Regions from separate parts of the Homo sapiens genome. Here region 2 is linked to region 1. A link means that fine-mapping ties the variant in region 1 to the plasma level of a protein whose gene starts in the linked region. Region 1 holds a variant in brackets. A gene starts in the other region. All regions are shown on their reverse strands.

Region 1 (8,859 bases):
CAAACAGTGCATCTGTTTCAAGTAGAGACACATTACCAAATTTCAAATCATATCCAACCAAGGATGGGAGGCAAAGAGTTGGTGTCGTTCCAGCAGCCCGCTGACACTTGTCATGTCCCTGTGCCCTGCATTCCAGGAAGGACGAGAGGAGCCAGGGGTTGCTCACGCCAACCATCATCCACTCTGGAGTCCTAGCATCCCAAAAGTGTGGGTCCTTGTTGACACAAACTTAGAATTCTTTAGGATCCTAAAGCCTAAGGAAACCTTGTTCTCAAAAGCTCACTGATTTTGCTCCTGGGGATAAAAAATATTAACAGTTAGTAATATTCTTTCCATTTAGATCTACAGAGTTGGATTCCAACTGGTCATGGTTTCAGTTGCGATGCATGCAAGTCGGAGGAAACGCTAGTGCAGTAAGTTCATCTCAAACTCGTCATTTTCCTTCTTGTTTAAATATTTGTTATGCTATAATAGTAAAGAAGCTCAGGCTAGGTGCAGTGGCTCATGCCTGTAATCTCAGCCATTTGGGAGGCTGAAATTACAGGCGTTTGGGAGGATCACTGGAGCCCAGGAGTTCAAGACCACCCTGGGCAACATGGCAAGACCCTCTGTTTATAAAAAACAAACAAGTCAGGTGTGGTGTCTCACGCCTGTAATCCCAACACTTTGGGAGGCTGAGGCGGGCGGATCACTTGAGGTCAAGAGTTCGAGACCAGCCTGGCCAACATGGTGGAACCCCATCTCTACTAAAAAAAAAATAATAATAACAAAAATTAGCTGGGTATGGTGGTGCACACCTGTAATCCCAGCTACTCGGGAGGCTGAGGCGGGAGAGTTGCATGAACCTGGGAGGCAGAGGTTGCAGTGAGCCGAGATCACACCACTGCACTCCAGCCTGGGTGACAGAGCGAGACTCCATCCCAAAAAAACAAACAAACAAACAAAAAGAGTTCAATACTTGAAAGTTTGGGAGGCCCTATGAGAAGAAGCAGAGAGCCTGATGGGTTTTGGAGTTGGACAGACCCAGTTGACTTGTTTATTCAAAAATCTGTTAAACACCTAATAAACAGGAAGCGTTGGCTAGCTGCTGGGGATATAGTGACAGACAAGACAAACAAGATCCCCAGCTGGGCACGGTGGCTCATGCTTGTAATCCTAGAACTTTGGGAGGCTGAGGCAGGCAGATCGCCTTGAGCCCATGAATGTAAGACTGACCTGGACAACATGACAAAACTCCGTTTCTGCAAAAAATGCAAAAATTAGCAAATCATGGTGGTGCATACCTGTAGTCCCAGCTACTCGGGAGGCTGAGGTGGGAGGATCTCTTGAGCCTGGGAGGTAGAGGTTGCAGTGAGCTGAGATCGCACCATTGTGCTCCAGCCTGGTTGATAGAGTGAGATCAGTGATAGATAGAGTGAGTTGATAGATTATCAAAATAATAAATTAAAATAACCAATATCCCCTCTTATAGGGGATATTTTATTATAAATAAAAATAATCAAGATCCCCTCTTATAGACAGGGGCAGTCAGAGAGTAATCAAAGAAATATGTTCACAGGAAAATAACAGGCAGTGATAAGTGCTTTAAGAAAATTAAAACAGGAAGTGAGGGTACAGAGAAACTGGAGGCTTCTTTATGATAATAGTTTTTTAATAACTGGGGTGACTTTTGTGGTTAGGATGGAATGCTTGTATTTAAATTAATATTTAACTTCTTAAATCTACAAATTAAAAAACCCATTCTTTTTTTTTTTTTTTTGAGACAGAGTTTGGCTCTGTTGCCCAGGCTGGAGTGCAGTGGCGCCATCTCAGCTCACTGCAACCTCCACCTCCCGGGTTCAAGAGATTCTCCTGCCTCAGCCTCCTGAGTAGCTGGGACTACAGGTGCACGTCACCATGCCTGGATTTTTTGGTATTTTTAGTAGAGACGAGGTTTCACCATGTTGGCCGAGCTGGTCTCAAACTCCTGACCTCAAGTGATCTGCCTGCCTTGGCCTCTCAAAGTGCTGGAATTACAGGCATGAGCCACAGCACCCGACCAAAAAACCCATTCTTCATGTCTTTAAATATAGCAAATATTGTGTGTTAATTTCTAAACACAAACATAAATACTGTGTGTTAAGTTCTGTGAAAAAATAACCTTAAAATATTCAATTAATTTATAATTTTAAAGAACTGATTTCCTTAACCCCATTTACAAACCTAAGTAAGGATTTTCTTTTTTTTTTTTTTTCTTTTTTTTTTTTTGAGACGGAATCTTGCTCTGTCACCCAGGCTGGAGTGCAGTGGCCCAATCTCAGCTCTCTGCAACCTCTGCCTCCCAGGTTCATGCCATTCTTCTGCCTCAGCCTCCCGAGTAGCTGGGACTACAGGCGCCCGCCACCACACCCAGCTAATTTTTTGTATTTTTAGTAGAGACGGGGTTTCACCATGTTAGCTAGGATGGTCTCGATCACCTGACCTTGTGATCCGCCCGCCTCAGCCTCCCAGAGTGCTGGGATTACAGGCATGAGCCACCGCGCCCGGCCTAATTAAGGATTTTCAAACATTTTAAACTTTATTTACAAATTCAGTATATTTGATTATCTCAAACACTGAACTGGCAGCCTTACAAATCTAGCCAGCCAAATCTTGCACAGCACTGGTAACCTATTTATCAGGCCAAAATGGTGTAGATGGAGTAAATGGAATTCCTTTAGGCGTTTCTTATATGCTAAAGTATAAGAAATCAAATTTGTATGCATTTCAAATAAAAATTATGGCCAGGCATGGTGGCTCGTGCCTGGAATCCCAACACTTCGGGAGGCTGAGGCGAGAGGATCACTTGAGTCCAGGAGTGTAAGACCAGCCTGGGCAACATAGTGAGACCTCATCGTACAAAAGACTTAAAAATTAGCAAGGCATAGTGGAACCTGCCTATAGCCTCAGCTACTCAGGAGGCTGAGGTGGGAGGATCACTTGAGCCCAGGAGTTCAAGGCTGCACTGAGCTGTGATCATGCCATTACACTCCAGCCTGGGTGACAGAGCAAGACCCTGTCTCAGAAAAAAAAAAAAGAAAAAAAAAATATATATATATATATGTGTGTGTGTATATATATATCAATTAAATAGTTAAAGTCAGAGGTCTAAAATAGCAGTTTCCAAAATGCTAGTTTCTCAATCTTTTTTCTTCGTTGTCCCTAAGCATAAAAATCAATTAATTAGATAATTTTCCATTTAAATTGGATCCAATGTTTCCCTAATGAGATAAATTAAATACTAAGGAATACAATTTTGTCAGGTAGAGGTGACCTTTGGAAGGCCATAAACCATTGTAATAACTAAGATTTTTTTTTCACTTTTCAAGAAACAATTTTTGCCCCTCTTAATTAAAAATATATGCCTGGCCAGGCATGGTTGCTCCTACCTGTAATCCCAGAACTTTGGGAGGCCGAGGCAGGAGGACCACTTGAGCCCATGAGTTCAAGACCAGCCTGGACAACAAAGTCTACAAAAAAAAAATTTTAAATTAGCCAGGCATAGTGGTGCATGCCTGTAGTCCTAGCCACTTGGGAGTCTGAGGCAGAAGAATCACTTGAATCCAGGGGGTTGGCGCTACAGTGAGCAGTGTTCACCGTGCCACTGCACTCCAGCCTGGGTAATCAAGCAAGACCGTCTCAAAAAAAAAAAAAAAAAAAAAAGAAGTATGCCTTAGATGTTTCAAGGCTTTTTTTTGGTTTTTTTTTTTTTTTTTTTGAGATAGAGTCTCACTCCTATTGCCTAGGCTGGAGTGCAGTGGCAAAATCATAGCTCACTGCAGCCTCAACTTCCTGGGCTCAGGTGATTCTCTCACTCAGCCTCCCAAGTAGCTGGGACTACAGGCAAGTACCACCACGCACAACAAGTTTTTTACATTTTTAGTAGAGACAGGGTTTTGCCATGTTGCCAGGCTGGTCTCGAACTCCTAGGCTCAAGTGATCTGCCTACCTCTGCCACCCAAAATGCTGGGATTGCAGGCATGAGCCACCGGGCCCAGCCAGTGTTTCTTATTAATTTTTTATTGATTTTCTGTTTTTTTGTAGAGGCGTGGTCTCACTTTGGTTCCCAGGTTGGTCTCGAATTCCTGGCCTCAAGCAATCCTCCTGCTTTGGCTTCCCAAAGTGCTAGGATTACAGGCATGAGCCACTGTGCCCAGCCTCA[A/G]GCATCTTTTTAGAAACCTTTGCCCATTATCATGATGTTCACAAACTTGTTCCTAAACTTAGCACTGTTGGTTTGACTTACCTGTTCTTATTTCTAAGCCTTCCCAAGGTTGCAGAGTCACCCTCCAAACTCCAGAAAGGAGCTTTCTCATCTCAAGCCATCAGGGGTTGGGGGACATGGGGAGGGAAGGCTCAGATGAGTGGTCATTCGGTTTAGCCAGTGGAGCTGTGAGTTCTGTGCTTGGAACCATCCTTTTTGTATTTGAATCCTAACTCTGTCCCTTGCTACCCATGTGACTTGGGGCATGTTGTTGAACCTCTCTGTGCTTCATTTTCCCCATCTGTAAAGTGTAGACAGCAGTAGTGACTGTCTGATAGTGTTGCTATGAGGGTTGAATGAGATGATGCCCATGAAGCACTCACAACAGGATCCGGAACATGTGGGTGACCAATATCATTATCAGTTAAATTAGGTTCATCAAAGGATCACTCGTATAGGTTTTTAGAAGACCTGTTTTAATTAAGATATGAATTCTATAATTCATGTCTATACATGGATCCTCATGAAGTGGGTAAAAGCAGTTTCTTTTAATTGTTTAAATACTTGTTTTATCATCTTACCTATATTGTAGTATCTGTTAATGATAAAATAGTGCTAAACAAGGTAAACATTAATGTAGCTCCTCACTAATTTGTCAAAAATTCTGATTTACTGGAATCCATTTTGAGATTGATTGTGGACGAAGTGTAGTGGTTCACACTTCTAATCCCAGCACTTTGGGAAGCCACGGTGAGAGGATTGCTTGAATCCAGGAGTTGGAGGCTGCAGTGAGCCATGATCATGCCACACTACCCTCCAGCCTAGGTGACAGAGTCAGACCATCTCAAAAAACAAAGAAAAGGGCCAGGAGCGGTGGCTCACGCCTGTAATCCAGCACTTTGTGAGGCCAAGGCAAGTGGATTCCTTGAGCTCAGGAGTTCAAGACTAGCAACATAACAAGACCCCATCTCTACAAAAAATACAAAAATTAGCCAGGCGTGGTGGCACACACCTGTAGTCCCAGCTATTTGGGAGGCTGAGGTGGTGGGATCACTTGAGCCCAGGAGGTGGAGTTTGCAGTGAACCGAGATGGAGCCACTGCATTGCAGCCTGGGTAATAGAGCAAGACTCTCTCAAAAAAAAAAAAAAAAAAAAAAGAAAGAAATGGATTGCTCGTGAATTAAAAGTAGTCCTGAGTAGAAAGCTTTTCCCCAAATAAAGTTCACAATGACAGAGATGGTTTAATGGACAAATGAGGACTAGTTATTTCATTTTGTAATGCAAGTCTCATAGCTAGTTTTTGTTGTTGTTGTTGTTTTGAGATGGAGTCTTGCTCTGTTGCCCAGGCTGGAGTGCAGTGACACGATCTCAGCTCACTGCAAGCTCCGCCTCCCAGGTTCGCCATTCTCCTGCCTCAGCCTCCCAAGTAGCTGGGATTACAGGCGCCCGCCACCACGCCTGGCTAATTTTTTGTATTTTTAGTAAAGGCAAGGTTTCACCGTGTTAGCCAGGATGGTACTGATCTCCCGACCTCGTGATCTGCCTGCCTCGGCCTCCCAGAGTGCTGGGATTACAGGCATGAGCCACTGCGCCTGGCCATACGTAGTTTTACGAAAATATTAATGTGCATGCTTTTCTCTGTAGTCTTCCTTTTTTCATCAACATGGGTGTTCCACCAATGACACCAATGCCAAGTACAACAGTCGTGCTGCTCAGCTCTATAGGGAGAAAATCAAATCGCTCGCCTCTCAAGCAACACGGAAGCATGGCACTGATGTAAGTCACTGGAGGCTGGATTGTTTCCTTTAGATACATGTTCACTTCATAGAAAAAGTGATTTTTATCCTGAATAGTAAAACTTTTCTACCTGAGTTGTCTTACAAGGAATTAGTGTACAGTAGATTCTTACTATTGAAGTAGTTATGTTCTGTAAATTCATCATGAGTACTGGATTAGTGAATACTAAAACATTGCTCCTAGGAGAAATACAGGATTAGGTTCCTATAAGCTCTGGTCTCATTTTCATCAACTGATCAATACATAACCTTATTTAACATGTGTTTCTATTTAAAGACACCTTTTTAAATATATATTGATGGCTCATGAATATTGAACTCACAGCCAAGGACTATAACTCAGCCCTGAATGAAGCTTATTTAATGCCTGAATTTTCTCCATGAGGCACATCACAGCCTTCATGTGCTTCAGAACATTAGATAGCCCTTCAGTACTGCACTTGAGAGGCATCTTAAAAAATGACATCCTCAATAAAAAGCATGGGAATATGAAGAACATAGCACAAAATAAACTGCAGAAAGGACATTTGTTATGAGAACTGAAACAAGAAGGCAGAGTAGTGTGTCTTGTTCTACCTCAGCTGAGAATGTGCTTCTTGGGCAACTCATTTTTTGCTGCACTATTCTCCAAATGACTGAAAACACCACGAGGACTAATTTTGGGTTAAACGTAAATTTTAGCAAGTAGGTAGATTCATAAATATGGAATCCATGAATAACAAGGATTGATTATCATTTGGAACCTGCATTTAGATATGAAGTCTTTGATCTTTCCTTTTCAGAAATGGTTTATGTGTTTGAGGTCCTTGACTTCCTCAAGGTTTGGAAGCAAAATTTACTGGATGATAGATTACTAAAGTGCACGCAGAGGTCCTCTGTAGGGATGTTACTGATTTTATAAGAATGGAAAGCACCAATCTTTAGGAAACAGGTCTCTAAGGGAAGTGAAAGGTATCAAATAAAATCCTTTACAGGCCGGATGAAATGCTCAGCCCTGTGTTGTTTTTTTGTTCTAGCTGTGGCTTGATAGTTGTGTGGTTCCACCTTTGTCCCCTCCACCAAAGGAGGAAGATTTTTTTGCCTCTCACGTTTCTCCTGAGGTATGTATTATGCTTCACATCATTTTAAAGTGTGCTTACTCTGACAGTTAACAAAAGGTGCATATTTAAAATGTTAGGATGTAGGCTAAGCTCTTGTAACAAGAAGTGCTGAAACATAACTACTGAAGAGAGAAATGACATTATCAACAATTCCAAGGTTAGGATATCTGCTATTGACTGATGGACTTACTTTGCTGTTCTCAACATGTGGCTTCCATCTCAGGGTCTAAAGCAGCTGCTCCAGTTTAAGACTCTCCCAGATTAAGAGAAAAAGACAAGCATCCTTGAGAGCTAATGCCCTATTCTTCTATTTATTTATTTTTGGGGGGACTGAATCTGGCTCTGTTTCCCAGGCTGGAGTGCAGTGGCACGATCTCAGCTCATTACAACCTCTGCCCCCTGGGTTCAAGTGATTCTCCAGCCTCAGCCTCCCGAGTAGCTGGGACTACAGGTGCGCACCAACACACCCAGCTAATATTTTTTTTGAGATGGAGTTTCGCTCTTGTCACCTAGGGTGGAGTGCAATGGTGTGATCTTGGCTCACTGCAATCTCCGCCTCCTGGGTTCAAGCGATTCTCTTGCCTCAGCCTCCCGAGTAGCTGGGACAACAGGTGCACGCCACCACACCTGGCTAATTTTTGTATTTGTAGTAGAGACGAGGTTTCACCATATTGGCTAGGCTGGTCTCGAACTCCTGACCTCAGGTGATACCCCCGCCTTGGCCACCCAAAGTTCTGGGATTATAGGTGTGAGCCACCATACCCCACCACAGATGCCCTATTCTTTTACAGAAAAAGTCTGGAGGGAGCTCCCATCCCTTCTACTTATGTCCTATGAGCTGGAATTTAGTTGCATGTCTTATCTAGCTGCTAGGGAGAACTGAGAATTTATTACTAGTAGTGTGCCACAGTTCAGTTCAGAGCTCTGAAACTGACTAAAAATGAAAACATTTTTAATAGGGGTTTCATTCTCAGTGCCCCAGTTTTGCTGTTTATGTAGTATTATCTCAAAGCTATTGGATGAGTTAATGCAGGTAAAAGTACTTAGTACCTGGCACAAAGTAAGCCTTCAGTAAGTGCTCTAAATATCACTATCTTCATCTTTGTGACCTGATAGCAACAGTGACAGCAATCCATAGTACTTCTGTGGCCTCTCCTCAGATCACTTAGATCTAGGGAAAGTAAAGCCTAAAAGGCGACAATATTTACTATTTGGCCCTTTCTTTTCTTTCTTCCTTTCTTTTTTTTTTTTTTTAAAGACGGAGTTTTCCCTCTTGTTTCCCAGGCTGTAGCGCAATGGCGCGATCTCGGCTCACTGCAACATCCACCTCCCGGGTTCAAGCGATTCTCCTGCCTCAGCCTCCCAACTAGCTGGGATTATAGGCATGTGCCACCACACCTGGCTAATTTTGTATTTTTAGTGGAGACGGGGTTTCGCCATGTTGGTCAGGCTTGTCTCAAACTCCTGACCTCAGGTGATCCACCTGCTTCGGCCTCCTAAAGTGCTGGGATTATAGGCATGAGCCACCACACCGGGCCTACTATTTAGCCCTTTAAGGTAACGTGTGCCTACCTCTGTCTTGGACCATCATATGTTCTGCCAGCTACTCTAGCTCCTCCCAGTCCCACTGGGTAAGGAGCACGATTTGTTGAACTCTTGCTCAATCTATTCTTTAATTTTCTTTTTTTCTTTCGTTTTTTTTTTTTTTGAGATGGAGTCTTACTCTTCTGTCACCCACGTTGGA
Region 2 (8,859 bases), not on the chromosome of region 1:
TAGATATATATAAGCATAGATAGATAGATAGATAGATAGATAGATAGATAGATAGATAGATAGATGCTTCCTAGCTTGGCCATGAAATTTCTAGTACAATTTGAGATTAACTTGAATCTTTTTACTTTTGAGAATGGCTATTCTCAGTTTATTAAAGCTTGATCTAGGGTTTTCAAATTGTGCCCTTGTGAAATAAAGAAAATCCCCAGGGACCACAAATGCTTGCTTTCTTTATATTTTTCTTTGAAGAAAGGAGCTGAGTTTAAGAAGGCTAGAGGAAGTCCAGTTAGATTTGATATTGACCAAACAGGAGACTGCCCAGATGCTATTGATCCCCTGCACTTGGCAGCACAAATGCCCTTGGGTGTGCATTACTTCAAGCAAACGGAAGTGTGCCCCGCTGACAGTGGGAATGCCTGGCTGGGGGTGGGGGGGCCCGAGTGCACCACATCCAGCTGGGAGTGAAATTCCTGGAGAAAGCACCCACAGCACTCTGAGCCTGCTTGCAGCCCAACGGCCTCGCTGAGAATGCTACATTTAAAAGTGCAGTTTTTGGATGATTCCCAGAAGATTTTTGTGGTTGATGTAAGTGGAAATCACATTGCTATTATTCCTTTATTATTCATTCAATAATTGTCATTTGTGAACAGCCCATTAGAGAGCAATGTTATGTCTTCTTTAGGACTGAATGAAGGAGGACTGTGATTTTTAGCTTTGGAAAAATAATCTGTATTTAACATCACAATGTAGTTCATATTTTTCCATTAACCTTTCTCTTAGAACAAGTTGTCTTTTCTCAAGGGACAACAATAGCAAATTTTAAAGACAGGATAACTATTTGCAAAAAGTAAAGCAGCAATAAACTAGTTCTTTTACCCAATAAGGTATTGTTGTTCATTGAAATTATGTCTGTGGGTCTCACCCCATGAGCATTTGTGGGGAGAAAACTGTTGTTCTGAGGGAAAGGAGTGGGGGAAGCTATCCTCCTTTTCTGAAGAAAACCTATGGGTTATAAGGGGTAGAATTATGTAGTTGTAATGAGAACTTCAGGAAGGAATGACAAGTATGAGAGAGAAAAATAGGATAAGAGACTATTTAGTTTGATTTAGTACTTATAGTTCAGAGTTCTTAATAAATTCCTAGCTACAAGATGATTGCATACAATTATACCTCATCTCTTCAAGAAAGAACAAATGTATTAAGCACATCATTTGGTGCTCATGTTCCAACATCTTAAGATATGTACATTTTGATGTCAGGATTTATGTATGAGCATTTTGAAAAGTTCTACATTTTTATTGGAACCAAAAATGCTATTTGCTCTGATATTTACATTAGCCACTAACAAGAGACAAATAGTTTATTTTCTCTGAAATTCATACAAAATGTTGGTTTTTTTCTTTTATACATAAACTGACAACTGCTGTGGCTCAGCCATGATGTTGTGTGTGTGGGTAGCCCATTTTTCCAATGAGTATTTTATTTTTATTTGAATCATGTGCTTTGTGAGTGATGACTTCATGTCTTCATCTGCTGTTTTGCTGTCTCTTCCTTTCAGTTTTATGCGCAAAAGGCATTTCTAGTTCCACGGACCTGAATGATTTGTTTTTGTAGCAAATAGCTTCCATTAGAGGTATGAGGCATTTCCTATTCTTTCTTGGAACTATATTTAAGGGGTGGAAAATATCTTTTGAGTAGTTTATCCATTTGCAGACTGGTGGTGTATGCTCACAGTGCTGCAGTACCTGAATTAGTGAGCTGGGTATTCAAAAGATATTGCTTTAGGCTAAGTTTTTAATAGATATTTCAAGGAACTCAAAGAGAAATCTTTGACAAAAAGTGACAGAAGAGTTTGTTGAATGTGCAGTCTAATTCAGATCCATTTAAATGGGGTGGAGGGTGGGTAAGGAACACAGTACCATATCTTCACAAAATTCACCTACGGAAGAGCCACTTCCAGCAACTAGAAGACTTGATTTGGCTTCAAGTCAAACTGTCTCTTTCCAGCTGCAACACATTGTGTTCCTTGGAAAGATAATGGGAGAGATTTGATACCCAGCAATTCAGGTGTCAAAGCATGTGATCCCTTTTGCTCTGTGGAAGAATGCTTTGTAAGTAGCAACCATGGTGTTACCCAGAGAGGCAATAGCATTGGCTGCAGTACTGTGAGTGGCTTTGTCCAGAGGAGTTAGAAGCTTAAGTTAGCATTCAATCATCCAATAGTACCTTCTCTGCTTAACAATAATAGATTGATGATGATGATGATGATGATGATAGTGATGATGATGATAATGGTGGTGATGATGATGATAGCAGTAGTGAGTCATCTGTGGATAGCACTTTAAAATTTACAAAGCACTTTCACATCCATTAGTTCATTTGATCTTCCATTCAGCCTTGTGAGTGAAGGTAGGGAAAAGATCTTTTCCCATTTTGTAAGTTAAAAGATGGAGGCTCAGGGAACTTAAGTGACGTGTGCACAATCACACAGCATATAATTGCAGAGCTGGACTTCCAATCCAGAACTCTCCCCTCTCCTTCATATACAATTGTAAACAGTAGACTCATCTGTCAGTAGCCTTCAGTATTGCCGATGCACATTATTTATTTTCTGATGACCTCACAAGGCATAGAACTTGGCACACAGTGAGCTTTTGATGACTATTGTGAACCAGTTAGTAGACCCTTCTTTTCTTAATCATGGTTGAAGAATTATGTGGGACAGTGTTCCCTCAAGGTCAGGGAGACAATGGTGTGAATCTTTTCACCTATTCAAACACTTAAAAAAGCAACCTAAAGAATGCTCTATTTTATTAGTACTAACATTCCAAATTTGATGAAGAAATGCTTGGAACCATAATGAAGAGAACCCATTGATAGCTGAGGAAGGCCACATGGAGGACCTTTTGATACTAAACTGAAATCTCAAGAGGCATGGATCATAACCAGGGAAAATTGTCCTTCAAGATAAGATTCAAGAAAATAATTGGTTGCATAAGGGAACATAGTGGACTCTTGGGTATTGGTGTTGATTTTATAGAAAGTGCAGTGGTAGAAATATAAAAAGGACACATGATCAGATAAAATAATGTCACCTGGAGAAAGCTCATTGACATCCAGAACCCTTTCTCCACCCCCAGTACTATTATCTTCCTGAATTTGCCAGTGTCCAAGGTCTAACTCAGGCCTCCTGACTAAGAAGCCTGTTTTGTCACTACTCCACAAGAACTGGAGTCAGAGACTGACATTTAAAATTAGAATGCTAGTGTCACCATTTACAGTGGGATTGGGGACACTGGGGTCCTCTCATCATTTATATGCCAAATGATGTCAGAAGAGCCAGATCTGGAAGAATTAGATATATGATCCTAATATTCGATGGCTTGGTAATGCATCTGTGTCCACAGAGGCCATGGCATTGAGACCTTTTAGTCACGTATTCATTAATTAACTCATTTAGTTAACAAATTATTATTGAGGACCTAATATGTCCCAGGCCCAGTTCTGGGAACAGTAGACTCTGCTATATTGGTAGGTAAAGTTCGTGAGCAAGAGCACACTCTGGCCTGGACATACTGCCTGGATGCTACCAATTTTGGCCTTGGTTATTCCTTTTTCTGTCATTGCATGATTGACAACTCCGCTTTCTGATCATCCTACTGTTTTTAACTTGTTAATACTTTCAGTTAGTTTATTAGAAAGAGTGGCTGCTCCCAAATACATCTTGTTTTCCTGAGGTTTCTTTGCATATTTGTGCTCTGAGTCACTTGGTGTTGATTTTATAGATAAATTCTCTGAAAATATTAGTCAACCTTTTCTTTCATGAACTTCCAATAGTGTTTAGGGGTGCAGGATAGGTTATGGGACTTCACAATTGCTAGAATGTGCCTACTAAAGTACAATCCAATGAAGAAAATGAATTTAGTGAAAATGTCATCTTACTTTTCAAGCCCTCATATTTATTTCATAAACTGATCATTGTCAAATATTAGCATTATTCTTAGGGCTGATCTTACAACGGACAGCTTATCTTTAGACTGTCAAGGAAGGCTCTCTAGAATGATGATGGGAGTGGGTGAGTGAGACTAAAAATTGAATAAGGTCATGATTTACAAATTAATTGCAGGTTTTATTGTATATTTGGTTTTGCTTCTTCAACATGGAGACTAGAACTTTTCTTGAAGGAAAAAAGGAAGATAAGACCAAAGTTAAAGCTTTGTGAGATATTAGAAACAATAGAGGGTCAAGTTTCTAGCTTGACTATCAATCTCTTCAATATACACACATGCACATGCATGTGTGCACACACTCTCACACACAGTAGTAGTGATGAGTGCCTTTGGAGAGCAACCTCTTGTTTGCTCATCTCAGGTTACATAGAGAGTTGTACAAAATGGTCATCCCATCACCGTATTTGACACAGTTCTATCTGATATCCCTTTTTGCCTGCTGCATTTCTGTCTTTGTAAAAGCTGTTATTTCTGAATTTCCAAAATGATGTTTCACTTTGATGGTTTCTGGAGACTAAAGTCAAAACGAGATGTTAAAACATCTCTACTTTCACATTTACCTGATTGCTAAGTGATTGTACTGGCCATGCAGTGGGTACCCAGTAACAGAATATAGTAAGTTAGCTCACCTGATTCCCTTGGGAGCCCATGATAAAGGCCACTAGGCCTCATTTTTGGAAAGAGACAGAGAGGCAGTGCCAGGACCGAACACTGTTCAAGTTAAGTAGGAAAGCAAAGCACAGTGATTTTTAAATTTATTAGTGGTGGAATTTACCCTTGGGATGTTTGCCCAGGGGTTGGTTTTTAAATTTGCGATGATGAAGGATCTTTTGTAGTTTAGTCAACAGTGAAATAGATAACTGATTCTGTCACTTCATAAGGCAAAGTTCTTCCAACTTCAATGATATGAAATTGCTTTGGTGTAATAGAAGGTACCTGGATTTGGGACTACAAAAACTACCAAAAAACCCACCACTTTAGCTATGTAATCTTGGACTAATCACTTATCCCCTTAGCTTGCTGAGTTGTTGCGAGGAGTAATACAAATTAGGTAATGTATATTTGGAGTCTGATAAACCAGGATAGATTTGACTCTGCCACTGACAAGCTGTGGAGCCGTGGGTAAGTCACTTAGGCTATTTGAGCCTTAGTTCTGTCAACTGTAAATCCTAGACTTGGGGTGCCAGGAAAAACTTCCAGAAGAACAAACCATTTAAGTTGCTGAGTAGGAGTTAAGAAGGTGAAGATCGAGAGGTAGATTGTGGGGGAAGTATGGTGATCTACACAAAGGGAAGAACGAAGGCCAATATTCAAGAGAACATGGTCCTTTCACAGAACAAAAGGGTCAATCTAAGTGAAGAATGGAGTATTGAAAGGAAAATGGCAGTGACTGGAGGTCAAAGTTGAAGAAGAGGTTGGCAGCTAGACCTTTCAGGCAATGTATTCTATATGTGAAGAAGTGTGAGAAGTGTGGTCTTTATCCTGAAGGTGGCAGAGACCACTGAAGGGTTTAAAAGTGGGGACATTAGCCTCTGCTCATCATGCATTAATTTATGCATTTATTCATTCAGACTATATTTAATAAAAATATGTTCTAAGTGCTAGAGATGCCAGGTAGAATCTGAATGTTACCATCAAGTTTAGTGGATCCAATTTTAGAGGGTCAAACTATATCCAAACACATATGCCCAAACATCGATATTGCAGCCTACTAGGGTTCTGAACTTCGTCAATGGTGAAGACAGACAGGAAGGATGAATAAAAGACATGCTAATGAGGTAGAATTTCTAGAACCATTTGATGCCACACTTTTGGATATGGGAGATATGTGAGAAAGGATCTAAATGACCTTCAAGTTTCTAGCTTAAGTGGCTGGTGGGATGATGGCCCCATTCACCAAGATAGAGAACAGAATAGAAGGAGCAAGTTTAGAAGGGATAATGATTGGTTTTGTTTGAGATTTATAGATGGGATTATGGAAGGAAAAATACATCTGGAGTAGGGCAGACCTGAATTCTAGACCAAACCCCAACAATTTGAAGGTGTGAGACTTCAGGTGGGTCACTTCAGCTCTCTGAGGATGTGCCCTTATCACTAAAGTGGAGATGATCCTAGCATCTACCTCATGAGATCATTGTCATGATAAATGAGATATCAGGGATAAGGTTCCTGACACAAAGCGGGTGCTCAAATTTGTTAATTCCCCTCTCCCTGGCTTACAGACCTCCTTATTTCTGTACTTTGCAAACCAACAAAGAACAGTCTTTCACTTTCAACTGGACTTTCTTTTGATGATGCTTGATTTTGCAACCCACCTCCAGGTAATAGAGCTGTGCTCCCCCATTTCTGCGCTTCCTGTAGGGTTAATTTACCCTGCCTTTTTGCATGCTTTGGCCTCTGTTTACTCAGCAGCCCCAAGAGATTTGCTCTTCCCTTTGGAGTCATTAATCCTGGAAGGGTCCATAAGAACTCCCTAGAGTTACCTAAAATAATGTAGGGCTTCCTTTAAGGAAGCAGATGGAAATAGCCAAACCCTTTGCATTTTACTACATTCTAAATTGTTCCATGGTCATTATTCACAGTTAGGGTAATACAGTTAATAATAATAACAATAATATTACTGAATAATAATCACAAATAGCATTTATCAACAATTTTCTAGATGTATTTCCCATGCACTACCTTACATAAGTCTCATGCACATCAAATAAGTGTCACTGACTAGGGTTTTTATATAACTTCTCTGTGCCTTGGGTTTTTTTTTTTAATCTATAAAATGGGGATAATATTAGTACCTGCTCCATAGGGTCCTAACAAAGGTTAAATGAATTAATATATGTAAAACACTCAGACTAGTACTAGAAAGTGCTATATAAGTGTTTGCTACACTCATGCCTCATGGAATTCACTCCAATTTTAGATGGTGAACACATGTCCTGCTTCTTATGTCCAAGCAGTAATACTCCAAGCTGACTAGGCCTAAAATATTATGTTTATCTCTATTTTATGAGTATGTGAACTGAGGCACAGAGAGGTTGACTTACCCAAAGTCATATGGCTATTTAAGTTAACAGGTGAGCTGGGATTCAAGCCCCACTTTGTCTGGCTTCAAAATCCTGTCTGGACATTGATTAGATGGTAGGCTTCTGACTCAAGCGTGATTTCTGTATATGCAGTGAAACTTCCTGGTTTTCCAGAACTTTATGATGTATCCTCTAGCAGATACATCACAAGCAGCCTGCCTAAACAGCCTGCCCCATGCTAGGTGGGATCAATCGATGTTTGTTGATAGACTGACCAACAGACTGAGCAGATCAGCTCACCACCACCCCGTGCCTGTACAAAGAAAGCCAAGTGAAGGAGCTTCTAAACCCAGGTCAGAAAGATCATCCTGGAATCATAACGTTCCAATCTAGCCAATGTTGGCTGTCCCTTTGCCAGGGATTCATTTGTCATTGCAGGGGACCCATACTGCTTGGTGAATGCCTTTGTTTAAACTGAACTTCCTCTGTCGTTCATATCCTGAGGTTTGTTGCTTTGGAGAATAAATTGAACTGAAAAAAAGTGCTTGTGCTTTCTCTGGCCCCAGGCCAGGCTGAGCAGTGGGTCAAGCATGGTTTGGGTGCTGCCTGCCCCACCCTCTGGGAGCCCCACATCTCCTGCTGTCACATGGCTTCCAGGCTGCTTTCCTGCTCCAGTTCAGAGCAAAGGCAGGGCCTCCAGCCTTCCCACTCCCACTCCTACCTGCCCCTTGGCTTCCCATCCCCACAGCTGAAAGGAGGAGGGAACCCGAACGCAAAAACATTTGAGGCCATGGCGGAAGAGATTGGGGAACTGGCTTTGGAGCTATAGGTGGGTGGCGTTTGGCTGTTTGTTCAAGTCTGCACTCGTGGGAATCTCTGTGGAAAATTTCAGTTAGTCGGGGCCTTGCCGCCTCTTCACCTTTCATCGCAGGGCAGGCCTGCCTGCTGCCTGGTGCTGGGGAGGAGTAGCAGAAGTTGGTTCACTGCCCTGCAGCCAGAACGATCTGCAGATCTTCCCTCCGAATTAGACTCGCCAGAGATGATTCCTCTGAATTCTATAGGAGTTTCTCTCTCCCGCTTTTAAATACCCTGCATTTGCATCATTGTTTTGACCTGTCACAAACACAAATGTATTACTCTAATAAAGGCTTAACTTTAATTTGTGCCTTAGGACAATGAAGCTGTCAGTTGCAACTTGGAGAAATTCTTCAAACTGACTGAGCTGAGTCCAAATTGTCTTGGGGTCAAAAGGGCATGGCCTGAGGGGGAAAATCATCTGGGAGGCGGCTGGACTGGCCCAGTCATTTCCTAAAAGAGCCTGGAGACTGCCAGCCCAGCAGCAGGGAGCAGTGCCTAGCTTTTGTGATACTAGGTGCCTCTTAGCAGCTTTGTGCCAGACTGTCAGAACTGGAAAAACATTCCGTGAGACCAGTTCTACTGCTGAGAGAACCACCCTTAACAGTTCATTTACACCCCAGGAGGTAGTGCCGAGCTGGCCAATGAGGTGCTAGGGCAAGGCACCACTGAGAAGACCTGCTGAAGGCTACAAAGCTCAGGAAGAATGAAAGGTGATAGGCGTTCCGAGGAACATTTTTCTGGGGGCTGCGGAACTCTCTGATGTATATAGCTTGCCTGGTTCTAAACACAGCTGCTGTGCAAAAGCTACAATTATTACCCCCACATCATCTAATTTCAGCCCCTTTTTCTGTATTCCTTCTCAGCCTCTTTACCCACTTCCTCCTCTTCTGGGTCCAAGGTGTGGGGCCAGAAAGGGGAGGTTTGGCTGGGTGAGCTGACCCCAGGCCCTGGAAGCACTTAGGCATGGC

Direction of the effects. Positions count from the first base shown, and alleles are read on the strand shown. Strength reflects both the effect of a copy and how common the allele is.
As copies of G replace A in region 1, the plasma level of the protein whose gene starts at base 353 in region 2 goes down (moderate association).

What was found. PIP is the chance, under the fine-mapping model, that this variant and not a neighbour inherited with it causes the effect. The UK Biobank Pharma Proteomics Project read protein levels with antibody pairs (Olink). The fine-mapping took linkage between variants from a reference panel, not from the people measured, so its PIPs are less certain.
Region 2: FRMD7 starts here. The variant in region 1 is fine-mapped to the plasma level of the FRMD7 protein (UK Biobank, PIP 0.98).

Annotation. Positions count from the first base shown.
Region 1 is chr22:42,832,498-42,841,356 of GRCh38, reverse strand. ARFGAP3 (ARF GTPase activating protein 3) reads left to right here. Exons shown (of 16, transcript NM_014570.5): 3 at 341-413; 4 at 5,864-5,995; 5 at 7,032-7,115. Among named protein-coding and RNA genes, the nearest start is that of ARFGAP3, 20 kb to the left of the region's middle. The variant A/G (reference allele first, on the strand shown) is at 4,181.
Region 2 is chrX:132,119,514-132,128,372 of GRCh38, reverse strand. It overlaps FRMD7 (FERM domain containing 7), which reads left to right and starts at 353. Exons shown (of 12, transcript NM_194277.3): 1 at 353-585. The coding sequence starts at 529. RefSeq lists an enhancer at 8,259-8,859.